Regions from separate parts of the Homo sapiens genome. Here all the other regions are linked to region 3. The links come from fine-mapping of genetic effects on gene expression. A gene starts in region 3. Each other region holds a variant in brackets. All regions are shown on one strand. Distances are between the middles of the regions.

Region 1 (4,000 bases), 35 kb after region 3:
CTGAGTACCTGAGTCCCCCTGTTCCAATTTCCAGTGTCGACACCTAGGAGTGGACTTGCTGGGTCACATGGTAATTCTGTTTAACATTCTGAGGGGCCGCCAAGTGCTCTCCACTCTATAATCCCATCAGTAAAGCATGAGCTTCCATCTATCCACACCCCCACTAAAGCGAGTTATTTCTCCGCCTTTTATATGACACCCATCTTCGCAGCGGATGGGCCTTTAACAGGCCTCACTGCTAATGTGCCCCTCTGCACAGGAAGTCTCCACTGGGGGGCTCCTTGGAAGGGGATGGGGGTGCACTTTACACAGACAGGCTGGAAACGAGGGCTTACCCGACCCCGTTTGGGTGCTCACCCACGCCCCATCTGATCTCACCGCTTCCACTCCTCACGTTTCGCAGCAGCAGAAGAGCCCAGAAGGAAAACCTCCAGCCTGGACTCAATGTCCAGCGGCAGGCGGCTGTCCCCAGCTCTGAAACAGAGGGGCTGCACCGGCTGAGTCTGGGTGCTGCAGGGACACAGCCCAAGCAGCCAAAACAAAGCAGACCCACCCTCTGCATCAACTCGAAGAGCCTGCAAGGTGGGCCACACCATCTCCTGAGGTCAGGAGTTCGAAACTAGGTTGGCCAACGACATGAAACCCCATCTCTACTAAAAATACAAAAAAATTAGCCAGGCATGGTGCTGTGCACCTGTAATCCCAGCTACTTGGGAGGCTGAGGCAGAAGAATTGGTTGAACACGGACAGCGGAAGTCGCAGTGAGCCGAGACCACGCCACTACACTCCAGCCTGGGCAACAGAGTTAGACTCGTCTCAAAAAAAAAAAGAAAAAAAAAAAAAAAAAAAAGAGGGGAAACAGAGACAAGGGCATGGGGATGGGTGTGGCCTGGGGGTGTAACAAGAAGAGTGAAGAGTGGAAAAGGTCCCAAAGGTCACATTCCAGCTGAGTCTTCAGAGACTCACAGGTGATTCACCAGGAAGTGGGAACAGCACGCACGGGGCATAAGCAAGAGCGTTGGGATCAGCGAGGCAAGGGTGGAACTCAGGGCACGTGGGGGAGGGCAGCAGAGGGCTGCAGCAGAAGGGGGCCCAGGCCTGACTCCACCCAGCCCCTCACTTCCATCCCACCCCAACTCCCACTTTCTGCCAGAAACAGGCTCCCCCACTGTGGTCGGAGAACAGCAGCAGGGTGCAGCCTGGCCAGCCCTCACCAACCCCAGACAGCCGGGAGAAAGGTGCAGGGCTGGGCAAGTGCCAACAGGCAGGACAGGAACCCAGAAATGCACAGAAGCGGCGCAGACCAGGGCAGGCCCAGGAGATGACAGGAAAGGCTTGGACGCAGAGCCAGGCTGGCAACGCCACTTTTTCAAGCAGGAGAGAGGAGGTTGCATGGGAGGCCCCAGTAGGAACCCCAGGGCTGGTGCCAGTGAGGTGGGAAGGTGGGCAGCCCCTAAGAACACAGCGCTGTCCACAGCACTGCCATTCTTAGTACCTGCAGAGTGCTGGTGAAGGGACACGTCTCAGAACGGCTCAAGGACAGCCCGTCTCCTTTGAGAGCCCCGTGCCAGGCAAGATAAAGAAATGGCAATGGTGTGGTGGCTCACGCCTGTAATCCCAGCACTTTGGGAGGCCGAGGCGGGTGGATCTCCTGAGGTCGGGAGTTCGAGACTAGCTGGACCAACATGGAGAAACCCTGTCTCTACTAAAAATACAAAATTAACCGGGTGTGGTGGTGCATGCCTGTAATCCCAGCTACTTGAGAGGCTGAGGCAGGAGAATTGCTTGAACCCAGGGGGCGGAGGTTGCAATGAGCCAAGATCATGCCATTGCACTCCAGCCTGGGCAACAAGAGTGAAACTCGGTCTCAAAAAAAAAAAAGACAATGCACGCTGGTGCTGGTGCTGACAGCGCACATCAAGGTTGCTTGTACCAGTGGAGCTCGACTGGAGCAGTTTCGTCCCCCAGGGGCATTTGGCAATGACTGGAAAAGTGTGTGGTTGCCACAACTGGGGGAGGGGAGTGCCGTTGGCATCTAGCAGGCAGAGGCCAGGGATACTGCTAAAAATCCTACAGTGCACAGGATGGCCTTACGACGAGGAAGTGTCCGTCCCAGACATCGGTAGGGCTGAAGGTGAGAAAACCTGGCTTCTGAGGATGTAGGGCAGCGGAACAAAATGGAAG[C/T]GGAACTTGATACAAGGGAACCCACAGAAGTCTCGAGGCCAATGTAGGGTTGTGTTATGCACAGCTTTGCAGAGAAGAGGCCACCCCATGTACCCAGGTGTACTGTGAAAGTCCCATGACACCGAGAAAACTTGCCAGGGACTGAAAGCTTTCCATCATCAAGCCTATAATCCCAGAACTTTGGGAGGATCATTTGAGGCCAGGAGTTTGAGACCAGCCTGGGCAACATAGTGAGACTTCGTCTCTGCCAAAAATACAAACCTCAGCCGGGTGTGGTGGCGTGTGACTATAGTTCCAGCTATTCAGGAGGCTGAGGTGGGAAGATCGCTTGAACCAGGAGGCAGAGGTCGCAGTGAGCCAAGATCACAACAGTGCACTCCAGCCTGGGTGACAGAGCAAGACTCTGTCTCATAAAAACACAAACAAAAGTTCCAGCAGCCCATAATAAGTGACCAAGATGTTTTGCTTGACCAGACTTTAGTCAGGCTCCTGGGCCCATCTGTGTACCTCTTTGTAAAATCTGGTTTTAGCAAAACAAAAAACAAACAAACAAAAAAACCCACAAAACCACTCATCCTTGATATTTGATCACCATTATCTGTTCACTTGCTATCTAACCAGGTTTAATGCTTAGGTTAGGGATATCCAATCTTTCAGTTTCCCTGGGCCACACTGGAAGAACTGTCTTGGGCCACACATAAAACCCACTAACAATAACTGATAAGTGCATATATCTACATATATGGTAAAAAAAAAATCTCATGTTTTAAGAAAGCTTATGAATTTGTGTTGGATGTCATTCAAAGCCGCCTTAGGCCACATATGGCCCACGGGTTGGACGAGCTTGCCCTAGGTGATGTCTGATCACCCTGGCCTGCCTTCAGTAACAAACTGCTAGGTAAGCTTACCCAGAATCCACCCTAGCGCCCTGATGTTTCCTCAGTCATCTTCCATCCACTGATCCCCACCCTGCTTCCTGGCTTCCCACTTGCCCATGCTATAATCAGAGTTGAGCCCAATCTCTCTCCTTTACTACAAAATCCCATTGCTGTGGTCCCTATACCCATTGCAATGGTCTTCAATAATTAATGTGCTTTTAATAAGCATCATTAATTAATTTCTTTAACATAAGGTTGAGAAGATTAAATAAGGTAACCCAGGGCATTTGATCTGCTTACTGGAGGTCAGAGACAGAATAATGGGCCCAAGACAACAGAGAATGGCTCCTTGGGATCTTGTCTTAGAACAAGAGAAACTGCCCTGCTTGGAAGAAACGGAAGGTTGCTCTGCCTCCGTGATGGAGGGGTGGACAGGGACCGATTGTCTGCAGGATGGCCCCCAAGGTTCCCACTAGTATCCTAGGAATGGCTTAGTCACCTCCTGCTCAGAGCTTCTCCAACAGGCTGTTACATGGCTGCTTCCCACCCTGGCTGCCAAGCTCCAACTCTCTACTCCAAGGGCCCCGCATCCCTAGAGCCACACAAGGGTCCCTCCGTACCCCCACAAGCTGGGGAGATTCCAACTGCCTCATCTGGACAGGCTTCGAAGTCCTGTCTGTGTCTCAGAGCCCAGAGGCCCTTGTGCGAAGGGGCAGCTTGAGCCTGGGCAAGAAGTTCCTGTGGGCCAGAAGGTGACCTGTCCTGTGCTGGCCACCTACATGGCCTGGGAACAGTTATCAGCTCACTGTCCTGGAAAAGCCCAGATGGGTGTGGTCAGAATACAAGAAGGAAAACCCCCTCCACACACACTTCAGTGTCTACCCCAGACTCGCCTCCTCCGTGGAGGCACCCCTCCCTTTCCGCGTCTACACAGGCTC
Region 2 (4,134 bases), 100 kb after region 3:
ACTCTGTCACCAAAAAAAAAAAAAAAAAAAATCCCAGCTCTGCCACTTTCTATCTGGGTGACCTCGGGTGAATGAATCCCTCTGAGCCTCAGATTTCAGGAAATGGGGACAAAAGCAGCACCTGTTTCTTATGGTTGCTAAGAATTAAATAAGCAATTGAATGTGAATGTGCCCCGCCTCAGCAGCTCCGCAAACACCTATTAAATCTGAAGGCGATGATGACTGCCTCTGTTATTACAGCAAAAAAAAAAAAAGAACTTTGTAGGACAAATCAGAAACCAAACTGTTTTCTGAAAAACAAAAAAAACATTTATTTCTGTAAACTGTCTGAGTGCAGAGATGTTCTTTACAATCCCAATACAGTACAGATTTCTTCCCCAAAACGAAATGAGCAAGGAAAAACAGAAAAAGAGCTATATCAAATGTGCTCATGAAGAACCAAGCCAATCTCACCTTTCTTTAAAAACAAAACAAAACGATCCTTTTGAATGTGTGGTGCAGACGCAGGACTGAAGCCACAGGCTTTTGGGGTGCTGTGAGCCCAGGGCTTTGCTCAGCTCACAGCTAGCGCGGCGGGCAGAGCAACCCTTCGGCCCAAGCCATCCTCGCAGCTTACACAGAAGCTTCCTGAACCTAAGGGATCCGTTCCCAGCTCTCCTTAAATTCCCAGTCCCCACCCTGGGCCTCTCTCCCTAACGATCTTGTCGCTTTGGGAGCCCCTGAAGTGAACCCTGAAATACTCCCTCCGTCAACTCTGGGCTCAGACCTTTGCCCTTCTCTGTGTCACAAGGAAATTTCGGTCAAGAGGGTGGGAACAGGTGGTTTCAGACCGTGCAGCAAAGCCACTGCCAGGTAAGTTTTAAGGCAAATTTTATCTCTTCTTATTCAGTCTGAGCCGGACCTAACCTTCTCACCACCGAGCAATCCTGCCTATGCTGGACATGCATCTTAGGCAACTCCGGATGGAGGTGGGATGAGGGAGCCCGGGGCAGATACCAGGAGGTCTGGGCCTTAGTAGGGAATGGACGTGTGTGCTTATGAAGGCTGCAGGCACCGGGCACAGCTCCTGGCCCAGCTGCCCCTCAGTGGTACACAGGAAGCAGGGTCCAGGAAAACTGAGATGGCAAAATAGGCCCGGGCTCTGGAAAGCAACGTGAGGTCATGCAGATCTCACTAGGCAGACCTCGTCGCGTGGAAGAGAAATGCCAGGAAAAGGGGTCACTGCAGGAGGCACCTCGGATCTGATGGCAGGCAGGACCTTGCATCAAAATGACTTTTCTTTAGAACAAAAAAGAGGGGGAGAAAAGAAAAAGAAGATCAAAGAAAGAGGTTCCATGAGCGTCATGAGATAGGACACGGCAGGGTTCTAAGGGAAGCGGGAAGGTGGGGGCTGTGGACACAGGGTGGCGGGCGCTGCCTCTCATGGCTTCTTTTCTCCCTGGTGGGCTGGTGGGCTAGTAGCTGAGGCCGGCGGTCCTCTCCCCCGGGGAGCAGGCAGATGACTTTGGCAAGGGGTGGTGTGGCGGGGGCTGGGGTTACTCCGTCTGGGCGTCGTAATTGGCTCCCCCCGCCTTCTTCAGCTCGCTCTTGATGAAATCTTCCTCCAGCTCCTTCCGATCACTGATCACAAACTCCTTAGCGAAATTCTGCAAGAACAAAGGAAAACACAGCGTTCCTAT[T/C]AAGAAGGAAGGCACAGGATGTGAGGGTGGCTCAGGCAACACACTGGGAAGCAAAGCACTGAAAACCCTGATGAGAGATGGAAATGGAAATTCAGCAGCAGAGTCAGTCAATGGAAATTCAGCAGCAGAGTCAATGGAAATTGAACAGCAGAGTCATCTGGCAGAAAAAACCTGACTGGGAGGAGGGAGTGGGGCAGATCTGATGCTGCGTCTTCCCATGTCCGTGGGGATGGCCCGAGGAAGCTGGGGCTTGAATTTGGGCTGTTACCTTGGCCAAGTCCCTTCAATTCTCTGTGCCTCAACTTTCTCATCTGTAAAAAACTATCTCGTCAGGAAAATAATAGGTTACGAGGTTGGAAAGGCTCACGGGTGTGCAGGCACTCCAAAAAAAAGAAAAGGACAAAAGCTCAGATTGGTGTCTTTTGCCCATATCCATGATGTAAATAGTCCCCCAGTGGCTGACGTCAAGCTATCAAAGTGATGTCACCATACGTGGAGGTGGAAGGAGACAGGCGTAATTGGCTCTCGCCAGCTGGGACAAGCAAGCTTCAGCCACCAATGTTCCTAATGACGCAGGAGCCTCCAGTCCTGGGTCTGCCATGGGCTCTCCACCCGCACTGAGTTACACGAGGGTAGAGGCTCTGCCTTCTTTCAACAAATACCACGCCAGGCTGTGGGGCTACAGGGCTCAGCAAAATGGATGCAGTCAGTCTTTCCTCTTGCAGTACACAGGTTTCACCCATAGAACCCGCAGGCACCCATGATGCACTCAGTAAACGCTTGTGGCATGAATGAGGGAACCAGGTGACCTGGCTTATCAGACACCCTTAAGCCATGATGATACACAGTTACTGCCATATGTGGATCATAAGACTTTAACAAACAAAATTTCAGAACGATGACGGACAGCTTGACAAAAAAAAGCTATCAAAACCACAAATAACACGTCTAAAGGTAAGAAAATCATCCACATTAAAAAAAAAAGCCCATAAGGAAATAACATAAACAATGACCACCATTTTTCTTTTTCTTGAGAGAAAAGCCTGTTGCCCAGGCTGGAGTGCAGTGGCGCAATCTTGGCTCACAGCAACCTCTGCCCCCAGGGTTCAAGCCATTCTCATGTCTCAGCCTCCCAAGTAGCTCGAACTACAGGCGTCTGCCACCACACCCAGCTATTTTTTGTATTTTTAGTAGAAGCAGGGTTTCGCCACATTGGCCAGGCTGGTCTCAAACTCCTGGCCTTAAGTGATCCGCCCAGCTTGGCCTCCCAAGGTGTTGGCACTACAGGCGTGAGCCACCACGCCCGGCTAACCACAATTATTAAGCACTTATGTGTACCAGCACAGTGCCACAGTACTGAGAATGACACACAGTAGTAAATATGAATCATGGAAGGTGGAAGCAACCCCTATGTCCATCAACAGAGGAGTGGATTATCAAAACACGGTCCGTCCACACAATGGAATATTCCTCAGCCACAGAGAGGAATGAAGCGCTGCCACACGCAACTACATGGATGAACCTCGGAAACAGGATGCTGAGTGAAAGAAGCCAGGCATGAAGACCATGTACTGTCAGCTGCCATTGGTATAAATGTCTAAAAAAGGCAAACCCATACAGACAGAAAGCAGACTCGTGGTTACACAGAGCTGGAGATGGGAACAGGAAATGATAGAGACGTTCTAAAATTGGGATTGTGGTAATGGGTGCACAACTCCACAAATTCACGAAAAAGTACTGAAAAAGTACACTTAGGATGACTTGATTTTGAGGTACATACATCATACCTCAATCAAGTTCTTTTTAAAAAGGCCCGTAAGGTGATCAACATTATTTCCATTTTAAAGGTGAGGAAACAAAGGCTGGAAATTACAATGCTTGTCCGAAGTCAGACAACCAGAAGGTCCAGTTGATGCCAAAGCTGGCGTCTTGAAAGAGCCACCATCTCCTTTTGGGGTGATGAAAAAGTTTTGGAACCAGACAGAGGTAGGGCTTGCACAACACTGTGAATGTTCTGAAAGCCACTGAATTGTACACTTTAAAATGGTTCAGGCCAGGTGCGGTGGCTCACGCCCGTCATCCCAGCACTTTGGAGGCCGAGGCAGGCAGATCACCTGAGGTCAGGAGTTCGAGACCAGCCTGGCCAACATGGCGGAACCCCATCTCTACTAAAACTACAAAAATCAGCCGGGCGTGGTGGCGGGCGCCTGCAATCCCAGCTACTGGGGAGGCTGAGGCAGGAGAATCGCTTGAACCCGGGAGGCGGACGTTGCAGTGAGCCAAGATCGCGCCACTGCACTCCAGCCTGGGCGACAGGGTGAGATCTGTCTCAAAATAAATAAATAAACATAAAAAGGTTCATTTTATGTTAAATGAATTCCACCACAATTAAAAAATAAAAAACAAAAAAGTCGCCATATTGCCAAGAATGATGAGCCCAGGAGCATCCCGAAGT
Region 3 (4,000 bases):
CCTGTGACACCAGGGCCACAGGAGGAGATGCAGCGATGGGCCATTCCTAGTGAGACACAGACACAGGGCTGGCTGGAGAAGAAACCTTTTGAGCTGTGGGGCTGTCTTCCTAGAAGCTGCCAACCCCTGGAACCACTAAGAGGTCAAGGCTGAAGTGTGCCACTTCCACAGTCTGCTAAGGAGTGCCTCCCCCTGAGTCAGGGACAATTCTTGCTCTACTTTTCAGGATCCTTGGGCACACTGCTGGCCCGAGACATTTACTTCCCATTTAAAATTAAGTAATCAAAATACCAGGGTCGATTACTCTGAACTCTTGCTTATGTAAACTTTAGGGATAAAACTGTAGTAAGACACAAAATGCTAACAATAAAATATAAATTAGACTACATTAAAACTAAGACCTTCTTTTCATTAAGGACACAGTAGACTTGAACACCACCATTAAGCAACTTAGCTTGATTTACACTTGTAGAACACCCCATTCACGAGTAGCATAGAAACAGTCACCAAAATAAAGAGCAGAAATCAAACGAAAAAGCAAAAATAGAGGAAAATCAATCAAAACCTAGTTTTTCGAAGAGATCAATAAAACTATCAGTCTTGCAATAAGCTTATCAAAGAAAAAAGGGAAGAGAAATGACCAATGTCAGGAATGAAAAAGTATATCACCACAAACCCTTCAAGATATTCCAACAATAATAATAAATAATACTATGTACATCTTTATGTACCTAAATTCAATCAATTGGATGAAATAAACCAATTGCTTGAAAACCAAAAACTACCAAAACTCACTGAAGATTAAATAGATAAGCTGAAGTTGAAACCCTTCCAAAAAAGGCAGTTTCTGAAGCCAGATGATTTCACTGGTGAATTTTACTAAACTTGTAAAGAAATGGCAATTCGATACACTGAATTCCAAAAATAAAAGGGGACCGAGCACTTCTCATTTTATAAGGTCAACAATCACTCTGATACCAAAACTAGAGAAAAATACTAGAGACCAACATCCCTTATGAATATATGCACGAAAATCCTCAACAAAATATGAGGAAATCAGATCTAGCCAGGTACGAAGAATATAAGACACCAGGACGAAGTGGGGTTAATTGAGGAATGGAATTCAAGCATTCCAAAGTTCAACATTCAAAACCAATATAACTGAAAAGTTCAACATTCAAAAACCAATATAACTCACTATATTAATAGTCTGAAGAAGGAAAAACACATGGTTATATCAATTAATGCAGAAAAGGCATTTGATAAAATTCAATCTCCATTTGTAATAAAAACTCTCAAACTAGGAATTGAAGGAAACTTCTTCAACCTGATAAAGAACATCTACAAAAAACCTATAGCTAACATCATACTTAATGATGAAAAACTGAATTCTTTCCCCACAGGATAAGGTCCAAGGGTGACCAGCCTCACCACTCCTATTCAGCACAGTATTAGAAGTCCTAGCCAGTGTAATATGGCAAGAAAAGTTAAAAGGCATTAGCAAAGAGCCTGGAAAGGAGAAAATCACAGATAACGTAATTGTCCACACAGAAAATCCCAACAAATCTTTTTAAAAAAGAAAAACCCTCGTAGAATCAACGAGTTTAGTAAAGCCACAAGATACAAGGTTAACACACAAAAAGCAGTCGTATTTCTATATATTAGCAATGAACAACTGGAAACTGAAATTTAAAATTGAATACTATTTGTCTGTCTCAAAAAAAAGTATCAATTCTCCCGAGATTGTTGTATTAGGTTTAACACAATTACCATCAAAATCCCAGGGTTTTTTTGTTTTTGTTTTTTTTTAAGACACAGATAAACTTGTTCTAACAAGCTTGGTATGATATTGTTATCAGCAGACCTATTTCAATTTCACTGGTTTTTACATAGTATCTGATGTTAGGCAAACCTGAGTTTAAGGGCACAGTGCTCCAGGTGGCTGGCCAAGTCTGCCCAGGCCTTCTGATACTGACTGCAGGTCCAAGAGTTTCCCACAACCACCTTCAGGTTGGATGATTCGTTGATGAGGCACACAGAGCTCACTGACACCTGTCATGCTCACAGCCATGTCTATTACCAGGAAAAGATACAGATTAGAACAGCCCCAGGGCTGCAACTGCAGAGACTGGTCACCCTCTCCCTCTGAGCTCAACAGTTTCTGAGTCCTGAGTCTTTCTAGCCAATCACTGGGTCTGAGAGTGGTTTCCTGCCCCCCACAACACAAGTTCTATGAAATTGTATGACACACATCAATTCAGGTAACCACTGCTACAATGAGGAGGCAAAACTTCCATCGCCCCTGAAAAACTCCTCCTTACTTTTTATAGTAACACCCTCCTAATCCCAGCAACCTCTAATCCCTTCTTCATCACCATAATGTTGTTCCTTCAATACTGTTACATAAATGGAATCATGGTATAGAACCTTTTAAGACTGGCTTTTGTCACTAAGCATAATACCTGTAAGGTCCCTTCAAGTTGTTTTATGTGTGTTCTTCTTCATGGCTGACTAGTATTCCACTGCATGGATGTACCACAATTTCTTTATCCACTCACTCATGGAGTGACAGAAACTCCTGTACAATTTTTGGAAGTCTATATGAATCTAAAATTATTTCAAAGTGTGTAAGAAGATAAGATATACTCATAGGGCAAAAATACACCAGGTAAAGACAAACAACACACAAGACCAAGGTGACACAGTCTAATCAGACAAGATTAAAAGAAAGGCCAAAAGCATTAAAGGAGACCAAGAAGGAAATTTAACAAGATATAATCACCACTGAAAAATCCATAGGCCAGACTATGTACCAACACAACATTCAAATTTAAAGAGGAAACAGTATGGGAAATTCAGGCAAAGGATACAGAAAATTCATTATATTAACTTACCACATGAAAGGACACAAAACCTCAGTGATTCCAAAGAGTAGATCTAATATAGATGACTTCTTGGTCGGGCATGGTGGCTCAGACCTGTAATCCCAGAACTTTGGGAGGCCGAGGCGGTTGGATCACTTGAGGTAAGGAGTTTGAGACCAGCCTGGGCAACATAGCGAAACCCCATCTCTACTAAAAATACAAAAATTAGCTGGGCATGGTGGTGGGCGCCTGTAATCCCAGGCTACTCGGGAGGCTGAGGCAGGAGAATCGCTTGAACCTGGGAGGCAGAGGTAGCAGTGAGCTGAGATCACACCATGGCACTCCAGCCTGGGCAATGAAGTGAGGCTCTGTCTTAAAAAAATAATAATACAGATGACATCTCTAATCACTATGCAATCTAATTTAAAGACGAGTGACAGGACTAGGGGAAATTCTCTAGCACAGCAAAATTTAAAAACTCTTGGGTACAAGAGAAAATCAAAATGAAGGCCACAGAAAATCTAGAAGCTTATGATCAACACACACCTATCTATACAATACTGCAAAATAACTCAGGGCCCAAGAAAAAAGTAATAGCTTTATGTATTCATCTACTTCCATTATTTTTTATTTAGTAAAATAACTCAAAAAACTGAAAAAAAAAAACTGAAGAAAAGCAGGAATAATATAAAAGCAAAATTAGTAACTGAATCCAATCTAGGAAAATGAAAACACAAGAAAAGGAAAAAAAACATAACTACAAAAGAGTTTCAATACTTTGGGGTCAATATTACATAAAGTAATTTGAAGACTTCCAGCAGAGATTTAAAACAATCCAATGGTAAAAGAAATGGATAAGGTTGTCAAGAGTTAATCCCATCCTCACCTACATCATCAGAAGCAGGAATGCAGACCTGCAATATGCATTTTAAGAAGCTCTCTAGGCAAATCTGATGCATGCTCAAGCGGGGAGAACTACTGGATAAAAGAGGTCAGTAAGAGGCCTGGAACGGTGGTTCATGCCTGGAATCCCAGCACTTTGGGAGGCTGTGGTGGGTGGATTGCTTGAGCTCAGGGGTTTGAGACCAACCTGGGCAACATGGCGAAACCACCTCTACAAAAAACACGAAATTTAG

Which allele goes with the higher level. Alleles are on the strand shown, and positions count from the first base shown. SD is a standard deviation of normalised expression in the study named. Not every link is listed here.
For the expression in neutrophils of the gene that starts at base 1,970 in region 3, allele T in region 2 goes with a lower level than allele C (large effect, 0.77 SD a copy in BLUEPRINT).

The links.
Region 1: its variant is fine-mapped to the expression of ATP2C2-AS1 in esophagus mucosa (GTEx, PIP 0.98).
Region 2: its variant is fine-mapped to the expression of ATP2C2-AS1 in neutrophils (BLUEPRINT, PIP 0.95).

Annotation. Positions count from the first base shown.
Region 1 is chr16:84,500,276-84,504,275 of GRCh38, forward strand. The region is part of intron 1 of MEAK7 (MTOR associated protein MEAK7); the gene reads right to left. Among named protein-coding and RNA genes, the nearest start is that of MEAK7, 2.4 kb to the right of the region's middle. RefSeq lists an enhancer at 3,794-4,000. The variant C/T (reference allele first, on the strand shown) is at 2,185.
Region 2 is chr16:84,565,310-84,569,443 of GRCh38, forward strand. It overlaps COTL1 (coactosin like F-actin binding protein 1), which reads right to left. Exons shown (of 4, transcript NM_021149.5): 4 at 287-1,646. The coding sequence ends at 1,536. Among named protein-coding and RNA genes, the nearest start is that of COTL1, 51 kb to the right of the region's middle. The variant T/C (reference allele first, on the strand shown) is at 1,680.
Region 3 is chr16:84,465,392-84,469,391 of GRCh38, forward strand. ATP2C2-AS1 (ATP2C2 antisense RNA 1) reads right to left here and starts at 1,970. Exons shown (of 3, transcript NR_146503.1): 1 at 1,913-1,970.